Homo sapiens: one gene and its partners. The protein of the gene in region 3 interacts with the protein of the main gene of each other region in a biochemical or structural test. Each region holds a gene or a part of one and is shown on either strand. Other genes may lie near its edges.

Region 1 (7,919 bases), on a different chromosome or scaffold from region 3:
GTGGTGCAATCTCGGCTCAATGCCACCTAAACCTCCCGGGTTCAAGTGATTCTCCTGCTTCAGCCTCCCGAGTAGCTGGGATTACAGGCGTATGCCACCATACCTGGCTTTTTTTGTATTTTTAGTAGAGATGGGATTTCACCATCATGGCCAGTCTGCTCTCGAACCCCTGACCTCAAATTATCCACCTGCCTCGGCCTCTCAAAGTGCCAGAATTACAAGCGTGTGTCACCACGATTGGCCCTAAAGCAAAAAATTTTTTTTGAGATGGAGTATCCCTCTGTTGCCCAGGCTGGAGTGCAATAGCGTGATCTCGGCTCATCTCAACCTCTGCCTCCTGGATTCAAGCGATTCTCCTGCCTCAGCCTCCCAAATAGCTGGGATTACAGGCTTGTGCCACCACGCCCAGCTAATTTTTATATTTTTAGTAGAGACGGGGTTTCACCATATTGGCTAGGCCGATCTCAAATTCCTGCTCTCATGATCTGCCCACCTTGGCCTCCCAACGTGCTGGGATTATAGGTGTGAGCCACCGCGCCCTGCCTAAAGCAAAATTTTTAAAGGAAAGACTGAGGCTACATCTCTGCTATCTGCCAACCAGATACAGGGATTATGCAAATTTCTTCAAGGAACACAAATCAAGTGGAGGGAGTAGCTGGGATTACATGTTGGCCAGGCTGGTCTCAAACTCCTGACCTCAAGTGATCCGCCTGCCTCAGACTCCCAAAGTGTTGGGATTACAGGCGTGAGCCACGGCGCATGGTCAAGAATTGTTTTCAAGGACATTGTTAGAGCTGGAGGCGCATGACTGAGAAGGAGGCACGTCACTGAGAAGGGCGAGGTGCTATGGAGCAAAAGGGAGGAGACGCTACCTCGAGATCAGGAAGCTGGGACTGCCCCTGGCCTGGAGCCCAGGAGCCCACACTCGCCCCCGAAGGACTCCAGGGCTGCCACTGTTGAGCAGAAACTTAGAGTGAAGCCGCTCAAAGCTCCACATGTGCAGGTGGTGATCCCTATAACCCCACTGCAGTCCTCTACCCTGCAGCCAGCAGGCAGATAAAGCTTCTTCCTCCCACCCCACAGCGATCTTTCACAGGGGCCTCCAATTTGCAGAACCTACCCAGAAGCCAGCTGACAGGGCATTCTGGGAAGTGCAGAAAACTGCCTTGCACCACCCTGGGATACCCATGAGAATGGTGCAAGGTACTGTCGTGAAGACAAAGTGAGCCCCTAAAAAACAGAGCTAACGACAGGATGAGACTAACTCACTGAGCTTTTTCCAGAGCCAGGAAGTTCTCAAGGACAACAGTCTTGAATTCTGCCGTCTTAGGTTTAAAGCTTCTTTTTTTTACATTTTTTTTCTCTTTGTAGAGATGTGGGTCTTGTTATATTGCCCAGGCTGGTCTCAAACTCCTGGCTTCACGTATTTCTCCTGCCTCAGCCTCCAAGTGATGGGATTACAGCTGTGAACCACACTGGATTTTTTTTTTTTTTTTTTTTAATGGTGAGCACTTCTTTTCCAGTATGAAGATTTCCTGCTTGGCTTCTCTCTCTACTTCTCAAATGATTAATGACTGCAAACATCACCTGCCAATTCTACAAGCTGAGCTTCTCATCCCTATTCTCTCTCCTTTCCCTCCCTCCCTTCCTTCTTTCCTTCCTTCCTCTTCTGTGCTCTTCCCTAATGTTAACCCATCCTGTTCTCACACATACTCAAAAGAGAAAGACAAGCCATACAAAAATAATAGCCAGCTAGGGAAACAAAACATCTAACAGCTTCAAAATATGTCATCACTATGGCTTGTTTCCTGTGTGGACCAAAGGACCCTCTTGTGTAGCTGCTCTTGTGTAGCAGTTCCCTGCCCCTCTTTTGTGAATGTCAACGGCTTTCCCATTTACAGAGGCAAGGCCGAGAGGGAGAGGGAGTCTGCAGCTCCACCTCCAGCCTGTGCAAACTGCCAGGAGTCGGCTCTGCATAAGGCACAGTGCCATTTGGTCATCACTCAAGAACCAGTGTGAGCTTTTAAAGTGGATCTGCTCCCTTCAAAACTTTTTTTTTTTGAGAGTCTTGCTCTGTTGCCCAGGCTGGAGTGCAGTGGTGTGATCTGTGCTCACTGCAACCTCCACCTTCTGAGTTCAAGTGATTCTCCTGCCTCAGCCGCCAATGCAGCTGAGATTACAGGTGCTTACCACCATGCCCAGCCAATTTTTCTATTTTTAGTAGAGAGGGGGTTTTGCCATGTTAGCCAGGCTGGTCTGGATTTGTTTGTTTTTGAGATGGAGTTTCTCTCTTGTTGCCCAGGCTGGAGTGCAAGTGGCGTGATCTTGGCTCACTGCAACCTCCGCCTCCCGGGTTCAAGCGATTCTCCTGCCTCAGCCTCCTAAGTAGCTGGGATTACAGGCGCGTGCCACCATGCCCGGCTAATTTTTTGTATTTTTAGTAGAGACGGGGTTTCGCCATGTTGGTCAGGCTGGTCTCGAACTCCTGACCTCAGGAGATCTGCCCCCCCTCGGCCTCCCAAAGTGCTGGGATTACAGGTGTGAGCCACCGCGCCCGGCCAAAAATAAAATTTTTGTAGAGATGCTGCCCTGTTATGCTGCCCGGGCTAATCTCAAACTCCTGGGCTCAAGCGATCTGCCTGCTTCAGCCTCCCAAAGTGCTGGGATTACAGGCATGCACCACCTCGAGTTCAAAATTCTTCATTATTTTCCATTACTCTTGGAATGAAAGTCAAACTTTTTACCCAGGGCCAGAGCCGGTCCCACCTACCTTGGTAACCACACCTCCCGTGCTCTCTGCCTCCCTCACTAAGCTCCAGACACACTGGCTTTTCAGTTCCTCAAACTGCCCAGGCATTTTCCTCGTCAGGTGTTCTCCCTAGAGCCTGACTTGTCCCGAAAGCTCATCTTGTCTCAGTCTTTCTGTATGAGTGGCTCCTTTTCTTTCTTCAGATCTGGGCACAAATGTCACTTCCCAGAGGGGCTGCCCTATCACTCGCACATGGTTTTGTTTCCTTCGTAGCTTTCAGCATTGGAGGTGTATTTTTTTTTTTTTTTTTTTTTTGAGATGGAGTCTCCCTCTGTCGCCCAGGCTGCTGGAGTGCAGTGGCGCGATCCCGGATCACTGTAACCTCTGCCTCCTGGGTTCCAGCGATTCTCCTGCCTCAGCCTCCCGAGTAGCTGGCATTACAGGTGCCCACCACCACGCCCAGCTAATTTTAATAATTTCAGTAGAGATGGGGTTTGACTATATTGGTTGGGCTGGTCTCGAACTCTTGACCTCAGGTGATCCACCCACCTTGGCCTCCCAAAGTGCTGGGATTACAGGCGTGAGCCAAAGCGCCCGGCTGGAGGTATTCTTACTTATTTTTCAGTCTCCCTCAGACCTGAAGGTCAGCTCTAAGAGGGCAGGGACCATGGCAGCCCTGCTCACTGGCTGTACCCTTGTGCCTAGCAATGCCTGACATGTATTTCTGTGCTCAATTATTTGCGCCAGGACCTCACGTCACAGTGGTGAAGAAGACACTACACTTAACACGCTCCAATTCAAACCTCTGCCAAAATGTGCTCCCTGTCTCAGTAAAGGGCTCTTTACCAAGGCCTTTCTGATATCTCAGTAAGCTGTGCTGATACTCCACAGCAGCTCCCTCTTGAAATCAGACCCCAAACCCTACCACTTCCCATGATCCTGGCAGAAGTTAAGTTGGTGGCCAGGCGCGGTGGCTTACGCCTGTAATCGCAGCACTCTGGTAGGCCGAGGCGGGCGGATCACGAGGTCAGGAGATCGAGACCATCCTGGCCAACATGGTGAAAACCCGTCTCTACTAAAAATACAAAAAATTAGCTGGGTGGCGCGTGCCTATAATCCCAGCTACTCAGGAGGCTGAGGCAGGAGAATTGCTTGAATCGGGGTGTTGGAGGTTGCAGTGAGCCGAGATCGCACTGCACTCCAGCCTGGCGACAGAGCGAGACTCTGTGTCAAAAAAAAAAAAAAAAAAAAAAGTTAAGTTGGACCCCTTACTCTTCCAAGGGCCTCCCCACTCATTCAGAGCGAATTCTGCGGTCTCCGCGGCCTTCCCTGGTCTGGCCCCTGACCATCTCCTGCCTCTCTCCTCCCAGCTGCTGTCCCCTTGGTACTGCCGGCCTCCTGAGGGCCACGTTCCTGGGTTCTCGTAATCATCTTCTACCTGGTCTCTGTGATTCCGGCCTTACGCGCACCCACGCCCTCCCAGCCGGCAGCTGCAGGGATCCTTTTAAAACTGCCCGGGACTCCACTGCTCAAACCCTACCACCACTTCCCATTTTCCTTAGAAAAAAAAATCCAACAGGACCTAGCCCCGGGCTGCCTGTCAGACCTCGGCGAGCACGCCAGGCTCTGCACACCGTCTCTCGGAGCAGTCCCGAAGAGGCCGTTCCCACCAGACTCCGGGACCTCCTCAGGGCAGCTCTTCGTCCTCCACCCCGCAGGAAGGCTCTTCTCCCAATCACCCCGCGGCGCAGCAAGCCTGGCCCCGCCGCATCGCCCGCGCTGGACTCTGCTCTTCCACCGGTCGCCTGGCTACCGGCGCAGGACGCATCCGCTGTCCGCTTGGTCGTCCCCCCTGGACTTTGTGCTTCAAGAAAGCGTCACTTTTTGCCGACGGCGGCACGCCCGGTCCTAGTACAGCGCAGGCGCTTAACACACAGCACCCAGCCACGAGGCCCGGAGTCAGAGGGCTTTGCTTGCCCATTCACAGAGCCCTCACCCGCGGATCAAAGTCGTATTCCGCGACCGCAGCCCGGAGACTCCCGGGAGCGGCGCGGTGCGCCCCGCCCCCGCCAGGCTCTCGGCTGCCGGTTCCGCGCCGGGCCTCGCACTCGGGGGCGGTGTCCGAGCGTCGGCGCATGCGCAGATCGGGGGCGCGAGGCCTCACGGAGCTCGTAGTTTCCCGGACGGGCCGCTCCCGGCCTCGCGGCCTCGCCTCCCCACACTACAACTCCCACGGGGCAGCGGGCGCGGCTCCCCGTACCCACCAGCTGGCCGGGCAGGGCAGCCACTTCGCGGTCGGGCCCGCCGGCTGCGGGCACCCGCGCGACGGGCGGGAAGATGGCGGACGTGGTCGTGGGTAAAGACAAGGGCGGGGAGCAGCGGCTCATCTCGCTGCCTCTATCCCGCATCCGGGTCATCATGAAGAGCTCCCCCGAGGTGTCCAGCATCAACCAGGAGGCGTTGGTGCTCACGGCCAAGGCCACGGTGAGGGGGCAGGGCGGGGGTGTGGGCCGCCCTTACCCCTCGCGCCCCGCCCCGCCGGGCTCTGGGCACTGCCCAGTCCCCTTAGGCCCGCGCGCCGCCGGCTGCTCTTGCCGGGCTCGCGCGCGCCCCGCTGTCCCCGTCCCACGCCGGCGCGCGCTTCGGTGCCCGCGCGCCCCCACACTTTCTCGCGCGTCTTCGCCCCGCCCACCCCTCGCCGCTCCCTCACGTTCTCCAGTTTCTTCGCCTCGCCTACCGCGCGCCTCTCCCGCCCTTTGTCGCCTTCCTTCGCTCCGCCCGCCCCTTCCTTCCGTGCGCACCTTCGCCCCGCCCACCCCACTGTCCTCCCGCCGTTTCTCTCGCGCTTCCATTCGGCAAACCCGTAAGCTCCCGCGTTCCTCTGCGCGCCTTTCGTCCCTCCCACCTGTGCGCTCACGTCCTCCCTCGCGTGCGGCGCTCAGTTTCCGGCCCTACCCGTGGGCGTCGGCGCCTAGTGGCGCTCTTCTCATTTGGGTTCTTTGGGGGCTCTTTCACCCGCGACTCCCTACTCCCGGCCTGCCTTTTTCTTGTCACTGGACTGCTTCGTGCTTTGAGGGCCCTAACTCCTCCAGTGTCCCGTGGGAGGGGCAGCCGGGCGCTTCACCCGCGACTCGAGGCTCTTTTCCCGCGCGTGCGGTGCCAGCTCCAGCGGTCCGAGGCTTTCGAGCCCTCCCGCCCGCCACAGCTGGGGCCCCTCGTCTAAGAGGCAGCACATTCCCCAACCAGAATTTAAGGAAGTCCGGGGAACTTAAGTTTTACAGCCTGCTTAGCATCCTCCTGGGTGCAAAATAGATAATTTTGTCTTTTTTTAAAAAAATTGCGTCTCGATAGTGTTAGGCCAGATGTTTTCCTGTTCTGACACTGGGCCATGTTTCAGCTACACAGTTAAATGCTTTAGCTTGTCTTGGATTCTATTTTCCAGTCCCTACTTGTAGTTAAGTATATGATGTCCCTGCAGTGTTGGACTAGAACTAAGGGAAGTGGGAAATTACAGGTTTCTTGCCCGCTTTATGTCAGAGCCATGTTTTCCTAGAGCCCAGGGAAATAATTGCATATTCAGCATTTCATCTGGGGACATTTGTATTTTCCTATACAATTTCATTCTATTGGTATTAAGGAATGAGGATTTATGCAGGCACTTCTGACCCGTTATTTTATTTTTTGAGATGGAGTTTCCCAGGCTGGAGTGCGGTGGCACTGTCTTGCTCACTGCAACCTCTGCCTCGCGGGTTCAGATGATTCTCCTGCCTCAGCCTCCTGAGTAGCTGGGATTACAGGTGCCTGCCATCACACTCGGCTAATTTTTGTATTTTTTGGTAGAGACAGGGTTTCACCATGTTGCCCAAGTTGGTCTTGAACTCCTGACCTCAGGTGATCCGTCTGCCTCAGCCTCCCAAAGTGCTGGGATTACAGGCGTGAACCATCACGCCCGTCTTTCTCATCCCTTATTAACTGAACTAGATGCATTAAAGTCAAAACCTTGAGAAAGAGGCTCAGTTCAGCCTCTGTAAAAATGAAGACTTGGCCCTGCTATAAGAACTGGGATGCAGGAGGGAGAAGATCAGTTCCGGTTGTTTCATTAGGTCTGAGGGTTGTATGTCAGTTCCTAGAATAGAAAAGTTTTGGCAAAATGTAAGCTGTGGTCACTATAGTTGTAGGTGAACCACCTTAGAAACAGTGTATGCAAATAGAAGACTAAAAAGGTATTCCTGAGCCAAATAGAATTTTTGAATGGCTTTTTGCTACTTTCTATTTTTTTTTCTTTTTTTTTGAGACGGAGTCTCGCTCTGTCGCCCAGGCTGGAGTGCAGTGGCGCGATCTCGGCTCACTGCAAGCTCCGCCTCCCGGGCTTACGCCATTCTCCTGCCTCAGCCTCCCGAGTAGCTGGGACTACAGCCGCCACCATGCCCGGCTAATTTTGTTTTTTTTTTTTATTTTATTTTTAGTAGAGACGGGGTTTCACCGTGTTAGCCAGGATGGTCTCGATCTCCTGACCATCCTTGGTCCGCCGTCCTTGGCCTCCCAAAGTGCTGGGATTACAGGCCTGAGCCACAGCTCCCGGCCGCTTCTTTCTTTTACTCTAGAGGTTGGTCATTAAACAGTTACGATTCATCTTTTTCGTAAGTTAGACATCTAAAATAAGCCTCTGGAAAATGCCTGCTTCTCCGCCAATTTTGATACTGGCTTTGCTTTCTTTCTGACCTCATGTTTTTCTTTTCCCCAGTGATTTCTTTTTTTTTTTTTTTTTTTTTTTTTGAGACGGAGTCTTGCTTGATCACCCAGGCCAGAGTGCTGCAATCTCCAACCTCCACCTCCCAGGTTCAGGCGATTCGCCTGCCTCAGCCTCCCGCTGGCTGGGATTACAGGCACCCGCCACCATGCCCAGCTAATTTTTGTATTTTTAATAGAGATGGGGTTTCACTATGTTGGCCAGTCTGGTCTCAAACTCCTGACCTCAAGTGAGCCGCCTGCCTCAGCCTCCCAAAGTGTTAGTATTACCAGCGTGAGCCACCACGCCTGGCCTCCCCAGTGATTTCTTGTAATTTAATTTGAGAAACCAAGAGAATCTGAAGTCTTAATATACTTTTAAGCCTAATTAAGGAATCAACAATGTAATTTTAAAAATTAATTTCTGTGGTACATTTTCAAA
Region 2 (7,023 bases), on a different chromosome or scaffold from region 3:
TGCGCCACCATGCCTGGCTAATTTTTGTATTTTTAGTAGAGAAGGGGTTTCACCATGTTGGTCAGGCTGGTCTCGAACTCGAATTGAGCCTCCCAAAGTGCTGGGGTTACAGGCATAAGCCACAGGGCCAAGCCTTGAAAGATAACATTTTCAGATTATTTGGACTATTCTGAAAACTACGTAAGCCTGTCATTTAAATCATCTTTTCACTATTTATTTTCCAGGCAAAAACCCCTCCCACCTAGATGAAGATCCCTAGATTAAAGATCCAGTATGGGAGCAGATAGACACTTATGATTGTGTGAAAGTGGCATCATCACTAGTAAGATAGCAGCATCATTGCTCTTCTCACTGGGGCTGTTGGGGTTTTTGATATTCTGGAAACAGTAAAAACAAGTCCATCTGATGTCAGCATCCTTTTTCTTGCCCCTGATTAGTTCCTTTAAGTTGCTGTCTGATGGGGTTGATTTGATGCTGATTTTAAGTTCCCCTTTCTTCAGCCTTTGCTTACCTGAATTGGCACTTGACAGAACAGCAAGTTGATTTTCCCTGTTGGGGGTTAAAAGAGTAAAGAAAGGAGAGATAACTACTCTTGAGTCTTTGGACTTTTAAAAGAAAAGCTGATTTTGAGAAAATAGTGATTTCATTTGATACATGATTGAATTGGGAGCTGAATGAAGCAAACCTTTCATGGCCTTCTTATAAAATGGGTGCATTTTTCTGTCAGAGAAATATATTTCTTAATATTTCAAGCTTCTCGATGAAAGAAAAAATCTGAGGTGTAAAGAGAGCTGTATGGGCTGACCCCAGAGCCAGTCTAGAATGAAGGGTTCATCTTGTAGTCTTGCGGCTCTGGAATCAAGTATTACTGGGAGAGAAGCAAAGCTTGTTAGGGTTACTGACAGTGTCTTCCTGCTGTTGACCTTTCTTGTCACCACTGAAGAGGTCAAGCACCAAACTGCTATTTTTACTGCTGAAACAGTATAGAAGTTAGTCATTGATAATGATGTTTGACCTTGTGTAAGATGTATCAAGAGCAGCAATAATGCCAAGTATAAAATTTGAGATAATTCCTGGGGTAAATAACCTTCTTGGTTTGTTTCTTAGGATGTTGGTGTCCTCATATGCCTTATATATAGCCCAAGATGAATAGTTTCTCAGTATTATCTCATGTGGGTCAGTAGGACTATTTTTCACCAGCTTGTTATTATCAGTCTGCCTAATTTGGAAATTTAAAAAATTGTGCAAAACAAAAAAGCCCATCTTTGAAGATATCTGATACTTTGAAGATACTGTCACTAGCAGTAAAAGTAGCATTGGCTTAGTGTTTTGTCTTTTCTCCTCTTTAAAGAGAACAGTTATTATGGGGGCATTTTGCAGACTAAAATACTGTAATCTTGCCAAAAATTTACCAAAGAAAGGAAGAAGTTTTTTGTTGTTGTTTTTTTTTTTTTTTTTTTTTTGAGACGGAGTTTCGCTGTGTCGCCCAGGCTGGAGTGCAGTGGCGCGATCTCGACTCACTGCAAGCTCCGCCTCCCGGGTTCACGCCATTCTCCTGCCTCAGCCTCCCGTGTAGCTGGGACTACAGGCGCGCGCCACCATGCCCGGCTAATTTTTGTATTTTTAGTAGAGACGGGGTTTCACCGTGTTAGCCAGGATGGTCTCGATCTCCTGACCTCATGATCCGCCCGTCTCGGCCTCCCAAAGTGCTGGGATTACAGGCGTGAGCCAAGAAGTTTTTAAAAGATAGATGGTCTTCCTACTTTTAGTCTTTTGAGGTTGGACTCTGTAACCTGCCTCATGAATGGGGTCCTTAACCTGCCTGCTTAGCTCATATTTGGGGGTGGAAAGGGTGGAGTCCTTAACTGTTAGAGTTTAAATTCTGGCTGGGCACGGTGGCTCAGCCTGCAGTCGCAGCACTTTGGGAGGCTGAGGCGTGCGGATCACCTGAAGTCAGGAGTTCAAGACCAGCCTGACCAACATGGTGAAACCCTGTCTCTACTAAAAATATGAAAATTAGCCGGGTGTGATGGTGGGCGCCTGTAATCCCAGCTACTTGGGAGGCTGAGGCAGGAGAATTGCTTGAACCGGGGAGATGGAGGTTGCAGTGAGCAGAGATCGTGCCACTGCACCCCAGCCTGGGCAACAGAGCCACACTGTCTCAAAAAAAAAAAAAAAAAAAAAGAAATTCTAAGAAACAATCAGAGCTGAAAGAGGGAAATTACCTTAATATAACCTCTGGACTGTGGCTTTTAGTGTCCTGCAATTTCAGAGGCATTCCTGGTCTTCTGAGAGTAAAGTGACTGGAAATGTGGCAGAAAACTTAACCTGTAGTTTCTTTAATTAACAAATATATAAAAACCTATTATATGCCTCAAGTGTTCAGTTAAACCAAGTAGAATGTTTTATTAATTCAGAGCTTACGTTTATTTATTTTTTTATTTGGTTGAAAACGGTGGTGTGATCATAGCCCACTGCAGCCTCCAGGTCCTGGACTCAAATAATCCTCCCACCTCAGCCTCCGGAGAACCTGGCACTACAGGCATATGCCACCATGCCTAGCTAATTTATTGGCTTTTTACATTATCAGTACTTCCCTATTTTCAGGCCTTATTTTCTTCAAGGAATGGCTATTTAAGTACGTCAAGATTTGAGGCCTTTCTTCTCTCTTGAAATTTTTATCTCTGTGAAGAATGAAGCTGAGTTTTTTTTTTTTTTTTTTGTTCTCTGAAAATAGTAAGAGCAAAGCCCATGACCTTCATTGGATAAGTAAGCTGGTAGTGGCAGAAAAGGTAGATTTACTCATTCATTTCTTCAGTCCATGGACTCAACAAATATTTCCTTTGGTTCTTTTGTATACTTAGCACTAAATTAGGTGCTAGGGATATAATGGTGGAACTTATATCCAACTGATGCTGTGGAACCGACATAATGTAGAAGAAATAAGGACAGAGAACAGTCATCTTTGAATTCTTCTGAACAGCCTGGACGTGACAGTTTTCTTTGAGTAGCCCCCTCTTAGTATAATCTTCCTTCTTTCATTATCTTTGTTCTGCCTCACTTGGAGTCCTGACTAGGGAAGGTAGTTAAGGAGAGGATGGATATTTTGAGCCTCAGTCAGTATATGATATAGTTTGTCCGAGTCAGAGTTCAAGGGAAGCTTGTTACTAGGGCACTCAGAATGGGTTATCGTGATTGGAGAAGAGGGCATATTTATTCTGTGGCTTGGTACTTGGAATTTTTTTTTTTTTTTTAGTGTAGAGATAGGGTCTCACTGTGTTGCGCAGGCCAGTCTTGAATTCCTGGCCTCAAGTGATCCTGCTGAGGTTATAGGCATGAGCCACCTCTCCCAGCCTACATGGAACTCTTATTGGTGGAGGAACATGGCTTAGCCAGGGAGATGAGGTTTTTAGATACAAAAGCCAAAGCGTCCTCATTTGCAGTGTCAGGAACTGGGAACAGTGAAAACTTGGAACTTTCCCAAGGTGTGGGGCAGGAATGGGACAGCTTTTACATTAGAACAGGGTTTCTCAGCCTTGGCACTATTGATAACGTGGGCCAGATAATATCTTCGTTGTGGGGGGCGCTGTCCTGTTTGTTGAAGGACGCCTAGCAGCATCTTTGGCTTCTGCTTACTAGATGCCAGTAGCACATACCTTCAGAGATTACTAAATGTCCCCTACGGGGCAGAATTGCCCCTGATGAGAACCTCTGTATTAGAGTGTGGTGGGTAATCCAGAGATGTGTAGAGTTAAGAAATATCCTTCATGATGTTCACAATTACAAAGCTAAAATGTAGTGGTGTGATTTTTACTCTAGAATTTGCCTTTGCTGTTTAGTCAAGATAAACATTTGAAATCTCTCTCACCCCCCAACCCCATTTGTGAGATTTTGATGTACTACATGAGAAGAATGAACCCAAGAGCTGCAGGGACCACTGCAGTATCCAGCTGGAGGGTGTTAATGTGTCTTGTTGTCCTGGGGGGTAGCCTCAGAGGCTGGAGGGTTAGAATTGGTCAGGGAGGACACCTGTAACAGTGTTGCAATATATAATATTTATTTCAACACTTTGTGCATTGTCAGCCTTTTTCTTTTTTTTTTTTGAGATGGAGTCTCGCTCTGTCGCCCAGACTGGAGTGCAGTGACGCGATCTCGGCTCACTGCAACCTCCACCTCCCGGGTTCACGCCATTCTCCTGCCTCAGCCTCCCGAGTAGGTAGGACTACAGGTGCCCGCCACCACGCCTGGCTAATTTTTTCTATTTTTAGTAGAGACAGGGTTTCACCGTGTTAGCCAGGATGGTCTCGATCTCTTGACCTCGTGATCCGCTCACCTCGGCCTCCCAAAGTGCTGGGATTACACGAGCCACTGCTCTTGGTGTTGTCAGCCTTTTTCTATTAAACCATGTCACAGGCCCACAGAGTAGCAGCTCTTTGATTGGAACTGGGAGAAAAGCAACCTATTCGGCCCTGTGGGGAGGGCTTTATTGCTTCAAGCTTATAGGGCAATGTCCCTTACTCTTATAAATGAAACATAGGAGCTCTTAAAAGATCCATTTATGTATAGCTGGGACTGGGCTGGGTGCTTGAATGAATGTACTTCCTGGTATGAGAGTCATCTGCTACTCTAGGGGTTGGGCACTGGCTGATTTCTTTTCTCATTTGGTGAAAATCCTATTAGTTCAAAGGGAGATGCTCTCCTTTGCTTTACTGTTCTTACTAGCTCTGGATGGGAGGACAGAGTTTACCTTTAGGGTTTATTGTGAAAAGCATCTTGAGTAGGAAGGTTAAAATGAAATAAACCTAGGTTCATTGTTGAGAGGAGGTGTTCACATGTTTTTCGTATTCCCATACTGTGACATAATTAATTCCCATATTTAAGTGACATCTGAAATCAGGAGTCAAATTGTATATAAGGAAGTCTGGCTGGATCATCCCTAGTTTTAAATTATATTTATTTTATATGTAGACCGTTTAGACCTGATTATCTTTTTTTTTTGGAGATAGAGTGTTGCTCTGTCACCCAGGCTAGAGTGCAATGGTGCGATCTCAGCTCACTGCAACCTCCATCTCCTGGATTCAAGCAATTCTCCTGCCTCAGCCTCCTGAGTAGCTGGGATTACAGGTGCCCGCCACCACGCCCAGCTAATTTTTTGTAATTTTAATAGAGATGGGGTTTCGCCATGTTGGCCAGGCTGGTTTCGAACTCTTGACTTCAGGTGATCCACCCACCTTGGCCTCCCAAAGTGCTGGGATTACAGGCGTGAACCACTGCGCCTGGCCAGGCCTGATTATCTTTTTGAAAACTACACAGTCTTTTACTGTTTGTCTAATAATAGTAGCTAATGTAGTCCTGGTAAGGTGGCTCACGCCTGTAATCCCAGCACTTTGGGAGGTCAAGGTGGGAGAATTGCTTGAGGCCAGGAATTTGAGACCATCATGGGCAACATAGCGAGACCCTGTGTCTACAAAAAAATTTAAAAATTAGCCAGGTGTGGTGGTGAGCACCTGTAGTCCTAGCTACTTGGGAAGCTGAGGCAGGAGGATTACTGGAGCCCAGGAGTTCCAGGCTGCAGTGAGCTATGATCATGCCACTGCACACCACTCTGGATGACAGAGTGAGACTCTGTCTCAAGAAGAAAAAAAAAAAACTAACGTTTATGGAGTGCTTGCTGGATGACAGACACTGTGCTGGGGCTCTAATTTAGATTTTCTCATTTCATCCTCACCAGTCCTTAAAAGTGGGTACAAAAATTGTTACAGATGATGAAACTTAGGCCCAGCAAGTATAAGTAACTTGTCCAAGGTTAAACAGCTAGCTAGTAAATAGTAGAGTTGGGATTTGAACCTAGAGCCCACTACATTGTGCTGACCACATTGCATAGCACAAAGACAATTTTATGTGTCTAGGAAGCTTCTCGTAAATGAAGTGGTTGTGGTTCTGATGACAGTTCAGAAGAGACAGGTGGAGAAACTGATCTCACATACTAAATAACTTCCCATTCTTTTTAATTCTCTGATTTCTGTGAGCCATCGACATGTTGTTATTAATATTTACAAAAACAGGATATGCTGTGCTTTTCCAGAGCAGCAGAGAGGAGGTCACAACTTTGTTCTTGGATTCAAATAGAGAATGGAAAAATGAACCGTGACCCATCATTGAGGAGGATATAGTCCACTGCACATAGGATGGAAGTTGCATGTATCCTCCACACCAGGGGAGGTGTACAAAAAACTGGGGAGAGGAGAGGTGAGGATCAGATGAAATTGGCCCTCTAGGCATAGTATTTCCAGGACTTCTGAAGTGAAGAGTGTCCTCCTTGCTCTGTGGTATAAGCTTTGGAAGGAACCTAACTGGAGACTAAGGAATGAACTTTCCTTTAATTCTTGCACTTAAGAAGGATTATTAATCTCATGATGCTTATCTTTCAGACCCCCTACTGCTGAGGAGTAGCTGTTAACTATACTAGGGAAATCCTGACTGGGCGCAGTGGCTCATGGCTGTAATCCCAGCACATTGGGAGGCCGCGGTGGGTCGATCACTTGAGGTCAGGAATTCAAGACCAGCCTGGCCAACATGGTGTAACCCCGTCTCTACTAAAAAGATAAAAAATTATCTGGGCGTGTTGGCGGGTGCCTGTAATCCCAGCTGCTGGGGAGGCTGAGGCAGGAGAATCGCTTGAACCTGGGAGGTGGAGGTTGCAGTGAGCCGAGATCACACCCTTGCACCCCAGCATGGGCAACAAGAGGGAAACTCTGTCTCAAAAAAAAAAAAAGGAAATCCTGGAGGACCCTGTGTGTTTTGTTTGTTTGTTTGTTTTGTTTTGTTTTGTTTTTTTGAGACAGGGTTTCGCTCTGTCACCCAGGCTGGAATGCAGTGGCATGATCTTGGCTCACTGCAATCTCTGCTTCCCAGGCTCAAACAATCCTCCTGCCTCAGCCTCCCAAGTGGCTGGGACTGCAGCTGCTCACCATCATGCCTGGCTAACCTGGGGTCTTTTCACTATAAAGACTCCATTTTTTC
Region 3 (7,023 bases):
CATCTACATGGAACTCATTTTTGACAAAGCTACCAAGAACATACACTGGAGAAAGGACAGTCTCTTCAATAAATGGTAATGGGAAAATTGGATATCCATACACAGAAGAATGAAACTTGACCTGTATCCCTAACTATATAAAAAAATCAAATCAAAATGTATTAAAGACTTTAAGTCCTCAAACTGTGAAACTACAAGAAAACATTGGGAAAACTCTCCAGAACACTGGACTGGGCAAAGATTTCTTGAATAATACCCCACAGGCAACCAAAGCAAAAATGGACAAATGGGATCACATTAAGTTAAAAAGCTTCTGCACAGCAGAGGAAACAGCAAAGTGAAGAGACATCCCACAGAATGGAAGAAAATATTTGCAAACTACCCATTTGTCAAAGGATTAATAAATAACCAGAATATGTAAGAGCTCAAACAACTCTACTGAAAAAAATCCTAACAGTCCGATTTAAAAATAGGCAAAAGATCTGAACAGATGATTCTCAAAGGAAGACATACAAATGGCAAACAAGCATATTAAAAGCTGTTCAGTATCACTGATCATCAGAGAAATGCAATCAAAACTACAATGAGATAACATCTCATCCCAGATAAAATGGCTTTTATCCAAAAGTCAGGCAATAACAAATCCTGACAAGAATGTGGAGAAAAGGAAACCCTCATACACTTTTGGTGGGAACGCAAATTAGTACAATCACTGTGGAAGCAGTTTGAAGGTTCCTCAAAAAACTACAGATAAGAGTTACCCTACTCCTAGGTTTACACCCAAAAGAAAGTCAGTATATCAAAGAGATATGTGCACTCCCATGTTTACTGCAGCACTATTCACAGTAGCCATGATTTGGAAGCAACCTAAGTGTCCATCAACAGATAAATGGATAAAGAAAACATGGTATGTATACACAATAGAATACTATTCAACCATAAGCAATGAGACCCTGTAATTTGCAGCAACATGGATGGAACTGGAGTTTATTAAGTGAAATAAGCCAGACACAGAAAGACAAACTTGGCATGTTCTCACTTATTTGTGGGAGCTAAAAACTACAATTAAACTCATGGAGACAGAGAGAAGGATGGATACCAGAGGCTGAGAAAGGCAGTGGGGGTGGGGGAAAGTGGGGCTGGCTAATGGATACAAATAAATACAAAGAGAGACTAAGACCCAGTATTTGATAGCCCAACACAGTGACTACCGCAATAAATAATTTAATTATACATTTTAAAATAACTAAGAGTTAAACTGTTTGTAACAGGGATAAATGCTGGAGGTGATAAATACCCCATTTACCCTGATGTCCTTATTACTTATTGCATGCCTGTATCAAAGTATCTCATGTAACCTATAAATACATACTTACTCATAACAACTAAAAATTAAAAATTATACCACTACCTAAATTTGAAAGTGGAAGAATCTCAAATTATGAGCTTGGGTTCTCCCTTAAGGAAAAAAAAAAAAAAAAAAAAGTAAAGGCAATGGAGGGGTGCACAACAGGGACTAACACATCAATGACAGCCAAGCAGTGTTAAATACTTAGAAAGGGGAAATTTACATAATCCACATATTTACATATTCATGAATACTTACTGAAGGCTTTGGTCCTCGTTTCTTTTTCTCTGCCTTCTCCTTTTCTTCTAGTTCCATGTTTTCTCTTTCAATCAAAGTAATTAAGGTATTACATCTCCTCTGGAGCTCCTAAATTATAAACAAACATGGTACACGCACTTTCCATCCACAAGTTTCATGATTTCAATTTTAAAACAAGGTATGTTTTAATAGGATAATATATAAAACCACTAATACACCCCTGATTTAAAAAAAAAACAACTGATTTTCATATACAATTCATGCTATGAAGATTAAAGGCAAGATATTTGTAAATAATGTTTTTACTCCAATCTTTAAAGCCAAACTACTGTGTATTCTTCAAAAATTCTTCCTTCACTTAGGAATTAAAGCAATAAAAATGAACATATGCAATACTGCTACTTAGTGTGTATGTCTGAGAACTACTGTGCTACTTATATCCAAAACTTAAAAAGATTAATAGTGCACATATGTGAGGGTCAAAAACAACAAGAACTTTAACAGGTGTGTATAATCTTTCCCTTCAAAGTATCACTAGAATTATGGTAGTCAATCAATCACATGGCACCTTTCCCAATTTTGGAAAACCAGCCATGGAAGTCTACGATGAGTTCTACCTCATCTCTCTCTGGCAAACTGGACATACAGCCTCCAGAAAAGATTTAAAGTATAACATAGAAGTAGCAGTTAACCCTGAAAGAAACAGAAGTCCATCTGCACGGACGGCTGCTGGGTAGCAGCCCCCTTTCTTATAGAGCAAAATTATTTTTTTCTTATAGTAAGTGATACTACTACACACACAACTACAGTAAAATAATTTTAAAATACTACTGTATAGAATACACCACACAAGACTTAGAAATAGTATATAGAGATAGAAGAATACATTATCATTTTTTGTGCATCTTAACATGGAACATGTTAAGAAGTAACACAGTTTTAAATTACGGTACTGTACTAGTTAAATTAACATGGCACTGTCTTGTTACAATCACTATAAAATTATTCTTTATTAACTCTATAAATTGTTCCCACTTAAGAAGAAATAAGCTTTCAGCAACTGGATCTTTTCTCTAATTATATATTTATACAGTGTTTTATCTTCAAAGTATCTTCATGTATTTAAGTTTAGTACATTTCCCAAACTTGGGTATCACAAACAGTGATGTCTAGTGAAAAAAAATTTTCAGTGGTCAAACATGAAAATACTGCTTACTATCCACTGTCTTACAAAGTGACATTTTACTTTAAATATACAGAGAAATCTTACTATAAACAAACACAAAGATGTTTAAACTTTGCTTATCCCAGAATATCCCAAACTTAAGACTAAAGAACTTATTAGCATTATCCTCATCTGGCAGAAAACAAGTTGAAGCTCAAAGTTCAATGGTGGTGAAATAAGGAAGAAAAGGAGCAATCCATCAAAGTTAAACTTTTCTGAATTCAAATTTTAGGTTATTAGAAATGGGGCTATTTGGTCAGAAACTGTTAGTCAGATATTGGGAATAAAAACAAAACCTAGCACTAAATCAGTGCAAAAGTAGTGTTTCACTATAATAAGCCATCTTAAAATAATCCAGACTCTGGATGATTTATATTAAATAAATCAGAATGCTGATTCTGATGTGCAGATGCTTGAATGCAAGGACCATTTTTCTTTATAGAAATATGTTCATTTGAAAAACCAAAAAGTCGTAACACTCAGAAGTTGAAACTGATACTTCCTCCCACTTAGAACTTGAAAAGCTAGTCTTATCATATAGTGATATTTAAAGACGTAAGATACTAAAGGATAGGACCAATAAACTTGTAAGCTATCCCTGGTATTAGGTTTTATGATACTAACAATATTGTAACAAAAGTCTACTTCATAGATTTTTTTAAAGTCACCTTAAAGAATACCAAAGATGACACTTACTCTGAACTCTGCTACATTACACAAAAAAGCCCTGAGCACTCACCATTGCAGTTCTGGACTTAAGAAACCAGTCAAATCTGAACTGAGGAGAGTTGCGAATACACTGTCGCAATTCATCATAAACATTTTCTTTGTCAAATCCAAGTTTGTGAAGCATACAAATCAGAAAACGATCTTCTTCTTCAGTATAGTTTTTTCCTTTGTTAGTACCATATGATATTCTCAGCTGATGAAAAGGTGCTTTGTACCGTCCAATCTATGAAAGTCAGATTTTATATTATATAAAATACAAATCCTATATAATCTGTATTTCAAACTCAGCTTTAGTATAATTAGCTAAAATGTTGCATTTCAAATCAGAATTTTCTATCTAGAGCACTTCAATTGCTTTATATAATCTTTGTCCCGAAAGACCTTTATAGTCTTTATTATTATAAAGAGAAATACAGACTAAGACTTCCTGATTCTACTTAGTAAAAAGCTAATCTTAGTGTCTTTGACTCAGATCTATCAGTCTAGTGTATAGGTAAATTCTGCTGACAATACCATGTTTGAATGCTACTCTGAAGAAATTTTAAATTGTAAACCCTTACTTCTTTTCCTTTATAAAAAGTCACTCTCTCATACTCACAGCTAGGAGTTATTTTATTAACTACCTAACTTATTAACAAGCAAATTACCTTTGTGTCAAGTGCTTTCTTGATGCTTATTCTTCTTTGAATTCTCGCCTCTCCCCTTTCAATCTGAGCCATAATCTTCTCTATGTCCTGGAGCTCGTTGCACCTTTCCCAAAACACAGCTGTAAAAGTTGGACAAAGTAAACAAATCATTTATATTTTTATTTCTTTAATGTAAAAAAAATGGGATCAACTGGATTATTTATCTTCTAATTCTTAAATTTCTGCTATTCTAAGCAGACTCACCACAGCATACCCTCACATGTTAACCTAATAATACAACTGACTTCAGGAAACACAACACATAATACTTGAAGTTATGCAGAGAAATTAAGATAAAAATGCAAGGGCAATTATCCAGTGACTTATTCTGATTTTCTTTGCTGTCGCTAGAGTTAGCTAGGGTTAAAAAATTTTTAAAAAGGAAACCATTACGCCATTTCTGGAAACAGAACATTTTCTAATTTGTAAAAAATAATGAAGAAGGTACTAACTACACTGTGACAAAATTAGCTAATCACAACATAATTCAGAATAAGAAAACAAGAACCTTCCAACAGCTCTTACTAAACTCCAACAGCCTGCTTAAAAGAATTACCTGAATATTCAATGACTTCTTCTGGAGTTTTGCCTTCTACTTCTCTTGCTATATTTTCAATATCATCACGACCCCACTTCTCATTAGCTTTGATAAACTGGTTAAAATCTCTCTTATTCCAATTGGTAAATCCCTTCACAGGAACAGAAACAAAATATTTAATCACAGCACATTAAACTTGGAAAACATGCTATTAGCAAACCTTCTAAATATTACAAAAACAAATTTTCACTAGTTTATTAAGTTCTTTTAGAGTGGTAACTTTTCGTGTACATAAATATACACTTTTGACAACACATTATATATTGCTCAAATACCCAAGCAATTAAATATGAGTGGCTGAGAGTAAGGAATACTGTATGAAAAGGTGACAGTTTCACTGAGCTTTGAAGGATTACTAGCAGTTGGCCAGAAAGAGTGAATAACATAAAGGGCAAAAATATGAGCAAGTAGAAAAATGGAAGGAAAATGAAGCTTTAAAGGTAAGTCAAAGGCCAGATTCTGAAAGACCTTGATGAACACCAAAGGATGTTTAAAAAATAACCAAGCCAAGATTTATAGTTGAAAATGGTGACTGGGTAGCAATGTGGAAAATTCATAGGAAAGACGGGAACATTCAAAGTAAGGTGATAAAAAAGATACCCACTCTACCGAGCCAGAGTAATAAAATCTGTAGTCTTCTCAACTACCTCAACTAGTGACAATCAGATGGAGCATTTATCCACATGCCCATACTTTATTGTCTCCAATTATTCCATCTTTAAAAGCAGAAACTTGTATTTATTTTTATGCCCCAACATAACCTAACACAGTCCTTTACAACAAACTGTTACTAAAGTTTGTACTGATTAAAGGCTATACCTGTGTTAGAAGCTTCTCTTTTTCCTCTAACTCTTCATCATTAAGGGATTCAGCTTCATCAATTTTAAGCTGTTCTTCTTTTTGTGCCTGTGCTGCATTAGGCAGCTCAGGATTTCGAGGTACCTAAAAGATATTTTTCTATGCCATCAAATCAGTAAATTTTAAAGAGCATGTGATGAACCAACTAACTGACATTTCACAAGTTTCAATTCAACCAGGAAAGAAAATATACTGATACATTGCATGTATTATGTTAAAAACAAACCAGATTGGTCATGAAGTCTTATTTTTTCTTGTTAAAGAAAAACAGACCCAAGTTTATGTATTTCATACATACAACTAGACTAGGCTAAAGCAGTATTGTTTCACACTAGGTCCAAATTAGATAAATATTTATAACTAATGTTTATACCTTCCATAATTTCTGGATAGGAATGAACAGAAAGGCAGATAATTTCAATTACCTTGTACCCAATAGTTTTTCTGTAAAACAGAATTTCTTTTTCCAGTAATTCAAATAAACGTGGAGGAAAGAACTGGAAATCCTGAACATTGGGTTGTTTTGGAGGTCGAGGAGCCTAAAGAAAAACAAAAATAAGTGTTATCCATAAAAAAGAAATTTCATTTTAAATGTATCCTTAGTCCTCACTTCATAAACCACAACAGCCAATTCTGCAAGCAACTGAATGCATCTTTCAATAAAACTGAATTTATATCTTAATTTTAAATGCACAGATTCAAAATTAATTTTTGAAAAATGTTAACTAAAAACAGAAGAGAGTACACTCTAAAGAAATGCAAAATGTAGGAAAGAGGCAGTGGCTCACGCCTGTAATCCCAATACTTTGGGAGACCAAGGTGGGCGGATCATGAGGTCAAGAGATCAAGACCATCCTGGCCAACATGGTGAAACCCCATCACTACTAAAATTACAAAAATTAGCCAGGGGTGGTGGTGGGTGCCTGTAGTCCCAGCTACTCGGAAGGGTGAGGCAGGAGAATTGCTTGAACCCGGGAGGCGGAGGTTGCAGTGAGCTGAGATCGCACCACTGAACTCCTGGTAACAGAGTGAGACTCTGTCTCAAAAAAAAAAAAAAAAAAGAAACACAAAATCTAATTATCAATCTTTTTGCAAGAATATATGAAAAAAATTACATTTTCAAAATTTTTAGATATTTTTATGCTGTGTCAGTCAACTCACCTTGGGTGCTTTAGGTTCACTAACACGAAGAGCTTCCCTGAAATATGCATCAACGGCATAGTTGGCTTTTCTTTCTCGTTTAGGTGGTTCAATCCACTCTGTGAATGCAATCTAGCACATGGGAAACAACTCAAATCACCAACTTTTATTATACACAGTA

The links. Proteins that work in one complex are often made in the same cells at the same time.
Region 1: the proteins of SMARCA5 (region 3) and CHRAC1 form a complex in vitro, tested with the Homo sapiens proteins (one study listed by BioGRID).
Region 2: the proteins of SMARCA5 (region 3) and BAZ2A form a complex in vitro, tested with the Homo sapiens proteins (one study listed by BioGRID).

Annotation. Positions count from the first base shown.
Region 1 is NC_000008.11:140,506,414-140,514,332, forward strand, and holds the start of CHRAC1 (chromatin accessibility complex protein 1), read left to right. Parts: upstream 1-4,908; 5' UTR 4,909-5,086; coding exon 5,087-5,233; intron 5,234-5,582; exon of another isoform or gene 5,583-5,612; intron 5,613-7,919. UniProt on the Homo sapiens protein: Forms a complex with DNA polymerase epsilon subunit POLE3 and binds naked DNA, which is then incorporated into chromatin, aided by the nucleosome remodeling activity of ISWI/SNF2H and ACF1.
Region 2 is NC_000012.12:56,620,316-56,627,338, reverse strand, and holds part of BAZ2A (bromodomain adjacent to zinc finger domain protein 2A), read left to right. Parts: intron 1-224; exon of another isoform or gene 225-322; intron 323-6,085; exon of another isoform or gene 6,086-6,188; coding exon of another isoform or gene 6,189-6,249; intron 6,250-7,023. UniProt on the Homo sapiens protein: Regulatory subunit of the ATP-dependent NoRC-1 and NoRC-5 ISWI chromatin remodeling complexes, which form ordered nucleosome arrays on chromatin and facilitate access to DNA during DNA-templated processes such as DNA replication, transcription, and repair.
Region 3 is NC_000004.12:143,544,688-143,551,710, reverse strand, and holds part of SMARCA5 (SWI/SNF-related matrix-associated actin-dependent regulator of chromatin subfamily A member 5), read right to left. Parts: intron 6,975-7,023; coding exon 6,864-6,974; intron 6,242-6,863; coding exon 6,128-6,241; intron 5,787-6,127; coding exon 5,664-5,786; intron 4,936-5,663; coding exon 4,803-4,935; intron 4,327-4,802; coding exon 4,208-4,326; intron 3,784-4,207; coding exon 3,571-3,783; intron 1,715-3,570; coding exon 1,607-1,714; intron 1-1,606. UniProt on the Homo sapiens protein: ATPase that possesses intrinsic ATP-dependent nucleosome-remodeling activity.